Homo sapiens: one gene and its partner. The protein of the gene in region 2 interacts with the protein of the main gene of each other region in a biochemical or structural test. Each region holds a gene or a part of one and is shown on either strand. Other genes may lie near its edges. The genes, in order: ENG and SMAP1.

Region 1 (3,500 bases), on a different chromosome or scaffold from region 2:
ACTCAAGAGATCCTCCCACCTCGGCCTCCCAAAGTGTTGGGATTACAGGCATGAGCCACCACACCCGGCTGATTTTCATTTGATGTATCTGGCAACCCTAACTTCATGGCAGGGCCTAGGTGTGAACCCAAGTCTCCCTCCAGGTAAGGCAGGAGCTGAGCTCAGGAGACAAAGCTTCCCCTCTCTTGCCTCAAGGTGGTGGGAGGAATGGTCTGAAGGGGTTGAGAGTTCCCTAGCCCCAAGGGACAGGGCGAGCCGAGAAGGCGGCCCAGGTTTGGAGGCTGCCAGAGCAGACCGCAGAGCCCGGAAACACAGGTCCTGAGGGAAAGGAATGGAATTTCACCCTGACCCAGCAGGGTCGGAAAAGGAAATGAGGCTCCTACACCTCGTCCTGAGGAATGTGCCGGGGGAAGGGGGCTCCGGAGGAGGGAAGGAGGACAGAAGGGGAGACTGTTTGGAAGTTTGTGTCTCCATCTTGTCGCGCTCACTTCCTGTTTTCTTGGAGATCAAAGATGGGCGCGGAGAGACTGGCTTCATGTCCAGCCAAGGCCGGCTCAGAGGAGGGGGCAGGGAGGCTTCTTCTGAACCCTGGGCTGTCTGGAGCCTCACCGGCCTCCTTCCTCACCTTCCCACAGCACGTTGGGCTCTGGGCCCCAGAAGTCAGCAAAGGAAGTGAGATGGTCACCCCTTGCCATGGCAACGCCATTCCCAGCTCTGTCTTGGGAAGGAGAAGATCTGGATGAGGACTTCTGGCTGCCACGGGGGCCCAGGCCTTATATGTCGTCTCTCTGACCCTATCCTACATGTCCCAGGGACTCTGGAGTGCCTGGACATAGTGGCATTTTGGTTAAAAGCAAGCTCCCTGGAGCCAGGCTGACCTGGTTTGCCTCTCAGGCCCAATGCTTACCAGCTATGTGGCTCTGGTGAATGATTTCACCTCTTGGGGCTTCAATACCTGGTCTATAAAATGACAACAGAGCCCACATGATCCACAGAGGTGGCTGGGAGGACTCCATGAGACTGGGCACATGGCAATTCTTTCTTAAATTTCTATTTGTTTATTTTTCAGACAAGGTTGCCCTCTGTCTCCTGGGCTGGAGTGCAGTGGTGTGATAACAGCTCACTGCAGCCTTGAGCTGCTGGGTTCAAGCGATCCTCCTGCCTCAGCCTCCCAAGTAGTTGGGACTACAGTTGTGCGCCACCACGCCTGGCTAATTTTTTAAATTTTCAGTAGAGACTGGGTCTCACTATGTTGCTCAGGCTGGTCTCAAACTCCTGAGCTCAAGCAGTCCTCCCGCCTCAGCCTCCCAAAGTGCTAGGATTACAGGTGTGAGCCACCATGAGTGAGCCAGCATGCCTGGCCGGCAGCTTTCTCTTAATTACAATTATTTGACTGACTTCAGTCACTGTAGAATTGACTGTTCTAAGGGGTGGGGTGAAGTGGCGGGATGGGGTGGCCTCCAGGTGACGGTCCTCTGGGATGGAGAGGTCACTGGGATCTCCCTCACCCCAACAAAATCAAGGGCTGGTGCCATCTCCTGTCTCCAGTCCCTCTGACCCACCAGCCCCCATGTTCTCCCCACCCTCTCCTTTCCTCATCGGTGAGCGCAGGTTCCTTGGCTGTTACCTAGCTTAAGCCCCTCCTACTCAGATGGGGAGACTGAGGTCTGGAGGGACGGGACAGGTCAAAGTCTCACAGCACATGGTTGACCAGGCCGGGCCTCGGACCCGCGTCTCCCAACATGACCCAGTGTCTGGCCTGCAGATTATCGCAGCGCCTCCCTCCTTCCCTTTGGGACTTTCCCTGCCCCCTCCCCAGACTTCCAGGAACCCCAGTTCCTCCCGGATTGCTGGGGCCGCCTGGGGCCGCCTCCTCCATGCCGTCAGCCAGCGGGAGAGGCCACAAGCCTGGCCATTATGTAATGATCAGATAACAGGCCTGGCGGGGAGATCAGATAAGAGGTCCATTTATTTTGGGGCCTTTTCGAATCCTGGCCGCCCCCACCCCGCAGACGAGAATGGGGAGACAGGAGGGAGTGTGACGCCTGGGCCTGTCTCCCGGAGCCTGAGGCGGGCCCAGACCAAGTTGAAAACAATCCCCTGGCACCAAGGGAAACGCCAGGGCCTCCCGGGACTGGGTCAGAGGAGGAGCCGCTGGGGGCCTGGGTGACTGGAACCCCAAGTGAGAGACCCAGAAGCCACCTCCCACCACTGTCCCCTCTCCACCCTCGCCACCCATGTGCACACAGCACCTCCCAGATTTCCAGAGGGCTACCTTCAGCACCTTGGAGGATGATCAAGAAAAACAGCTCTGGAGCCAGATGGCCTGGATCAAATCCCAGCTCTGCCTCTTAAAATGCTGGTCACCTTGAGCAGAAGCCTAACCTCTCTGAGCCTCAGTTTCCCCATTTGCAGACCACCAATAATCACTGCAGATGCTCCCATCATGCTTACTGGGAGCCTAGGCAGCTTTACACGAGTGAACTCATTTGATCCTCACAGCAGCCTTGTGAGGTGGGCGGCGCTATTACACCCATGCACACTCCAGGAAACTGAAGACCAGGGCGGTTAAAGAAACTGAAGACCAGCTGCCCGAGGTGACCCAGCTACTAAGTGTCACGGCCTGGATTTAAACCCAGACAGTCTGGCTCCAGCAAGCAGCAGGCATTCACAGGCTGAGTGTGTCAGTTTGATGGGGTAACCCCTGTTGAGTGCCTGGTACTAAGTAGGTGCCCCAGACACAGAAGCTGTGAATATTATTTCATCATACTAGGACAGATACTTTTCTTCCCGCTGCCACCCCCCCTTTTCTTTTCTGAGATAGAGTCTCACTCTGTCACCCAGGCCAGAGTACAGTGTCTCGATCTCGGCTCACTATAACCTCCCCGTCCCAGGTTCAAGCGATTCTCATGCCTCAGCCTCCTGAGTAACTACAAGTGGACCACCACACTCAGCTAATTTTTGTATTTTTTGTAGAGACGGGGTTTCGCCGTATTGCGCAGGCTGGTCTCAAACTCCTGGGCTCAAGCAATCCACCCATCTCAGCCTCCCAAGGAAGATACGTTTCAACAAGGGTCCTTCTTGCTGCAATGCCTGCCCCGTCTTGTTCAGTACCCCCGGGCCACTCTTTACCCTTTTCAGGCCCAATTACAGCCTCACAGGTTTCCCAGCATCCAGCCCAGCCACTGCCCCCAGCCACCAGGAGGTCTCAGCATGCCTTGGCCCCGGGCTCCCCCCTGGTTCTACGATGCCTGCAGGGTCAAGTTCCTGCACTGCAGCCTACAGTAGAGGTGAAAAGCACAGCGATTTGACAGATGCCAAAGGTTCAGGTCCTGATTCTTCCACCTGCCAGCTGCCTTTCCATCCTCAGTGTTCTCATCTGTAACATGGGGATGAGGGTCATCATAACAGCTTCCCATGGAGTCGGCAAGCAGGCCAGTAAATTACACCTGCACAGCGCTAGGCCGGCTCCTGCTAAGTGGGGGTTGCTCAGGAACTGG
Region 2 (4,622 bases):
TTGGTAAGAGCAGGATCAAGAGCAGGAAACTGGCGCCTATGCCATCCTTTTCTCCTTCGTTGCTTCCTAAATACTGTCAATCCAGGAAACACAGCTGGTGATTCAGTAAGAAAATGTCAAAACCCAATTGACATACCTCTACCAACTATGATAAGGCAAGATAATACAGGCACCTCAAATCCTAAGCTTTAGTTTTGGTACATATTCTCAAAGATCAGTGGAAGAAGCTTCTTTGAAAGAAAGAAAATTGAGTTAACTAGGAAATAACTTTGAAATACAGTACATGAAAAGTTTGATGCAATTTACTAGACAGTGAAGAAAACATCAATACATACACAGAATGAAACTTCTTAGTAACTGAGCTGTAGAGTAAGACCTTTAACATATCTTTTAAAAGTACTATATTTATTATGTCATCCTAGCATATAGATCCAAAATCATGTAACAAGCCAAGAATTCTACTAAAAAAGCCTCCATAATGTACTTCAACCTTACCAAATACTCAAAAACTGTGAAAATATATTTACATCAATTGCTCTATCATGTCGAATTTTTCAATTATTACAACCATGAAATCAAGTCTAATTAAATCAATAAGTGGCCTTACCTGTGATTTTTTGCCTGAAAGATCAAGATAAAACAATGAAATTATTTACAAGATCATTTTAATATTCTTCTAGATTTAGTAGCAACAAGAAAAAAATAATCCTTGTAAATTATACTGTGGAGTTCATGCCCTTCAAGCTGCACCCTTGTACTCTTGATACCATTCTCTTCTCTCCCACTTCCTTCACTTCTCAAAACAAGTAAACCAACAAAAGGCCAGACAAAACCAAAATACAAAAGACATTCATTCAATATATATCTACTGATTTCCGTGGCAATACAAACACTGAGCAAAACGAATACTTCCTATTCTTCAGGTCCAAAGAAGTAAAACTTTTGATCCTAATTTAAGAAGTACATGATTCTCTTCTCCCCACCTCAAAAGAGTAAATAAAAAAAAAAAAAGTTAACATGGTTAATAATGGCTTTTAAAAATCTGTATTATTTTAGAAAGCATTAGTGAAAATCTGATTTTATAAAGTACTTTTTTGGAGACAGAAATTTGAACAAAAATTAAATTATTTTTAATAAAGTCTGTAGATGAAGGAAGGTTAATTCTGAAACTGTTACTATTCGACTTTTAATGAACAGATTTAATATTTACCAGCATCTCTACTTAACCATGTTATTACTCAAAATGACAAAATGTGTACTATTTAGCTTCAGCTTCTTTCTTCTTCTTGGCCTTTTAAAGGACCATTTTTCAGTGTTTTGCTAGTGCAGTCAATGAGCAAGCAACTGAGCCTAAACACAGTGCAGAACTCCCAAATAACCACACACAATCAAGTTACTAGGAAAACAAGTATTACAAGAACCAGGCACGGACTTTGTAAAAACTCATCACCTGAAAAGGTTACATAGGATAAATATAATCTTGACTCAATCAAGTTACTATATTGAAAAGTGCTTCATAAAAATAATCTAGTTACAGTATTCCCGCATGATTCTTCTAGTAATTCAGTACCTGTTACGACAGTGAAGTAACCTGCTGATGCTGTGTGGCTCAGTCTAGTCAAATATTATCAGCCTACTGAAATGTGACTCATTTATATAGTATTGAGATAGAACAGTAAAGCTTCAGGAAAAGTCTAAGTCAAATAACACAGAAATCTTAAAGGACATTCCCCAAAGAGACTGTCTCCTGCTTTAGAGAACTACCCTATTTCTCACCCAATAACGAAATAAACCAATTAAAAATATACACGATCTTTTCTTAACTACACAAGACATTTCTTTAAAAAAAAAAGAAATATTTCCCTTGAGATTACTTACAAGACATTAAACATAAATCAGATCTCCAAACACAAAACATAGCAGCTAAAAATAGTATATCTGTTTCAAAGGCTGAGGCAGAAGCCCTCCAACCGAAAAAACTAAAATTAGGTTTTTTCCATCTCTAGATCTTTAAAATGAACCTTCAGCATTTATGAGGTACACAAATCAGTGTCCACATATTCTCCCAAACTAGCTGGTCAGAGAAAACCTAATTACTAAAATCTTCAGAAATACAAACCCACCGTCCTCCAAGAGACTCATGTAATGAAATTCCTCTTCATTCTGGCTAATAACCAGACTAAAAAACAATACTACTACTAATAAAGACCTTTCTCCAATTAATTTATTCCGTAAAACTCAAACCCACCGAAAAAGACCACCATACTCTTTTTCAGGAAGCAGAGATAAAAGCCTTGTACAAAAGCTGTCAGGTGGGCAGGCAGGTAGGGCTCCATCTAGGAGACCAAGAATCCGAGCCCGGAGTGGGAGGACGTGGTCACACCGGAGGGTAGAGGAGGGGATCCAGACCTAAGCGCGGCCCCACCCACAGAGATAGCTATGAGCAGAGCTAGGAGGGCAACTCTCTAACCCTAAGCTCTGCCCAGACCCGTGCCCGGTTCCGCGCTCCCAGCCTCGCTCCTACCCCCAGCCCTGTGGAGGGTCCGAGCATCGCTACCCTGGCACCTGCTCAAACCCGTGTCTGGGAGGAGGGGAGGCTGGGGCCACTGACAGGGCCTGCGGGCCTGACCTCGCCGCCGCCTCTGGCGGACTTGAGGGTCGACAGGAGCCCCGCGCCCGCCCGCTCAGCCACCCGCCCTCCAGTCAGGGCAGGAGCCGGCCAGCGAAGCCGAGGCGTCCGCTCGGGCCCCGAGCGCCGCAGCGGCGGGAAGGTCACCGGTCGCAAGAGGCCCCGACCGTGGGCAGCGACGACGTCCAAGCTACCTTTGGCCTCGCAGTCGGCGCAGTACTTGTTGTCCTCCTCCCTCAGAAGCTTGGATAGGATGAGCTGGTGCTGCTCGTTCAGCTTCTGAGCCTTCTCCCGACAGGAGCGCGTCGCCATCTCGGCAGCGGGGCGGGGAGCCTGGGGCAGCTACGGCGGCGGCGGACGCTGGCTGGAGCCGGGCAGAGTGAACGCACCTGGCGCCGCCGGGACCGCGGGCGGACTCAGCCCAGGAAGCGGCAGCGGCAGCTGGAACGGGAGGAGGGGCGGCGGCGGCGGTGGCGGTGGTAGCGCCGACGTGTCCCGCCTCCTTGACCGGCCTGCCGGCACGCACCACCCTAGCCGGCGAGGGGAGGGGGAGGGGGACTGGGTCGCGCCGAGGCTTCCGGGTGGCGCGGAGGAAGGAACCCGGGCGCCGAGCGCGCTGCGCATGCGCCGAACCTACGGGGCCCGGGCTGCCGAGTCTTTTTGCAAAAAGGCCTTCTGCCCAAGGTGATTCCCGAAAGGTAGCTGGCACTGCCTCATACGAGCTTTCCCCCCTTTTGAGATGTGATGGTCCGCAAGGGCCTCTAGTAAAACCCAGTAATGGAAGACCTTTTACAAGAAGCCTACTTTGACTTGCCCATTTGCCTTTGCTCTTGCTGGCACAACATTGGAAATGCAGAAATAACTAGCGACTGGGTGGGTTCATTTACTCATTCGAGGTTTATTCGCCTGCAGTTTAGAAGCTGGAGACACGGATGGAAGAAAAGAGGAAAAACGGTCTCTTACATTTTAAGGGCGAGAAATAATCTAGTAGTGACATGTATTAGGGGATAACATTTCATTGAGTGATTACTCTGTTAAACGAACTGTTAGCTCATTTAACCCTTTCCCCAACCTTATGATATTGTTATCCTCATTACACAGGGGAGGAAAGTGAGGCATAGAGGAGTTAAGTAACCTGACCAGATTACAGAACTACTAGTGGAGGAGTTGAGATTTAAATCCAAAGCAGTCTGGCTCCAGAGTCTGAAAGACCTGGCAGTAAGCCCTTCCATAAGGGGGAAAGTGTGACCAGGAACCCAAGTACTAGGCGGTGATACTTTAACAAGAAGCTGTGTAAATAGTGATCCTTAATGCAAGAGAAAGAGAACTAAAGAAAACACTTTTCATTGGAACCCAGACCCTAATCCAGGCTCATGAAGTTTGAACTCCGGGTGACGCAGTTTCGATGATTTGGCATGTTGTATATTATGAGGAAGTTCTAATATGGGGCTTATGCAAGCCAAATAAACACAGTCCTTGCCTGCGATGAAGCAGATGCTAAGAAAGGCAATGAGCAAGAGTCGGTCTTACACTTCTTAGTAAGGCCAATTTCTAGCCCCTGTCCCTGCATAAAAGTGACCCTCATTGCTACCTAGCCCTGTTCTTGGCACAGGGGCTCAAAAATGTTTCTGGAATTAAATTGAATGGATATGGCAATGAAGATGCTCAGTAATTAAACAAATTAGAGCTTATACTACATAGCTCTGACAAATAACTACTAGGGAGATATTGGTGAGTTCCAATGAACAGAAAAAAACATTATGTGGGAGGTAGAACTTACGAGCCTTGTCCTGAAGATACGCTGGATTTAGATGGGGACTGGGGAGGGAGATATTAAGAAAGAGCAGCTTGCACAAAAGCATGAAGACCTGAAGTACCTTGGAAAACAGACTGGAACAAAAGGTACTACTTTTGAGATAAGGCTGCATAAGTAAACTATGATAGGGTTATGGAAGACTTGGGAAGCCAGACAAAGTAGTCTGGCCTTGATGCA

The links.
Region 1: the proteins of SMAP1 (region 2) and ENG interact on a protein array, tested with the Homo sapiens proteins (one large-scale study listed by IntAct).

What each region holds. Positions count from the first base shown.
Region 1 is NC_000009.12:127,844,659-127,848,158, forward strand, and holds part of ENG (endoglin isoform 1 precursor), read right to left. Parts: intron 2,478-3,500; exon of another isoform or gene 2,285-2,477; intron 1-2,284. UniProt on the Homo sapiens protein: Vascular endothelium glycoprotein that plays an important role in the regulation of angiogenesis. Required for normal structure and integrity of adult vasculature. Regulates the migration of vascular endothelial cells.
Region 2 is NC_000006.12:70,666,343-70,670,964, reverse strand, and holds the start of SMAP1 (stromal membrane-associated protein 1), read right to left. Parts: upstream 3,083-4,622; 5' UTR 2,942-3,082; coding exon 2,824-2,941; intron 2,436-2,823; exon of another isoform or gene 2,337-2,435; coding exon of another isoform or gene 2,249-2,336; intron 1-2,248. UniProt on the Homo sapiens protein: GTPase activating protein that acts on ARF6. Plays a role in clathrin-dependent endocytosis. May play a role in erythropoiesis.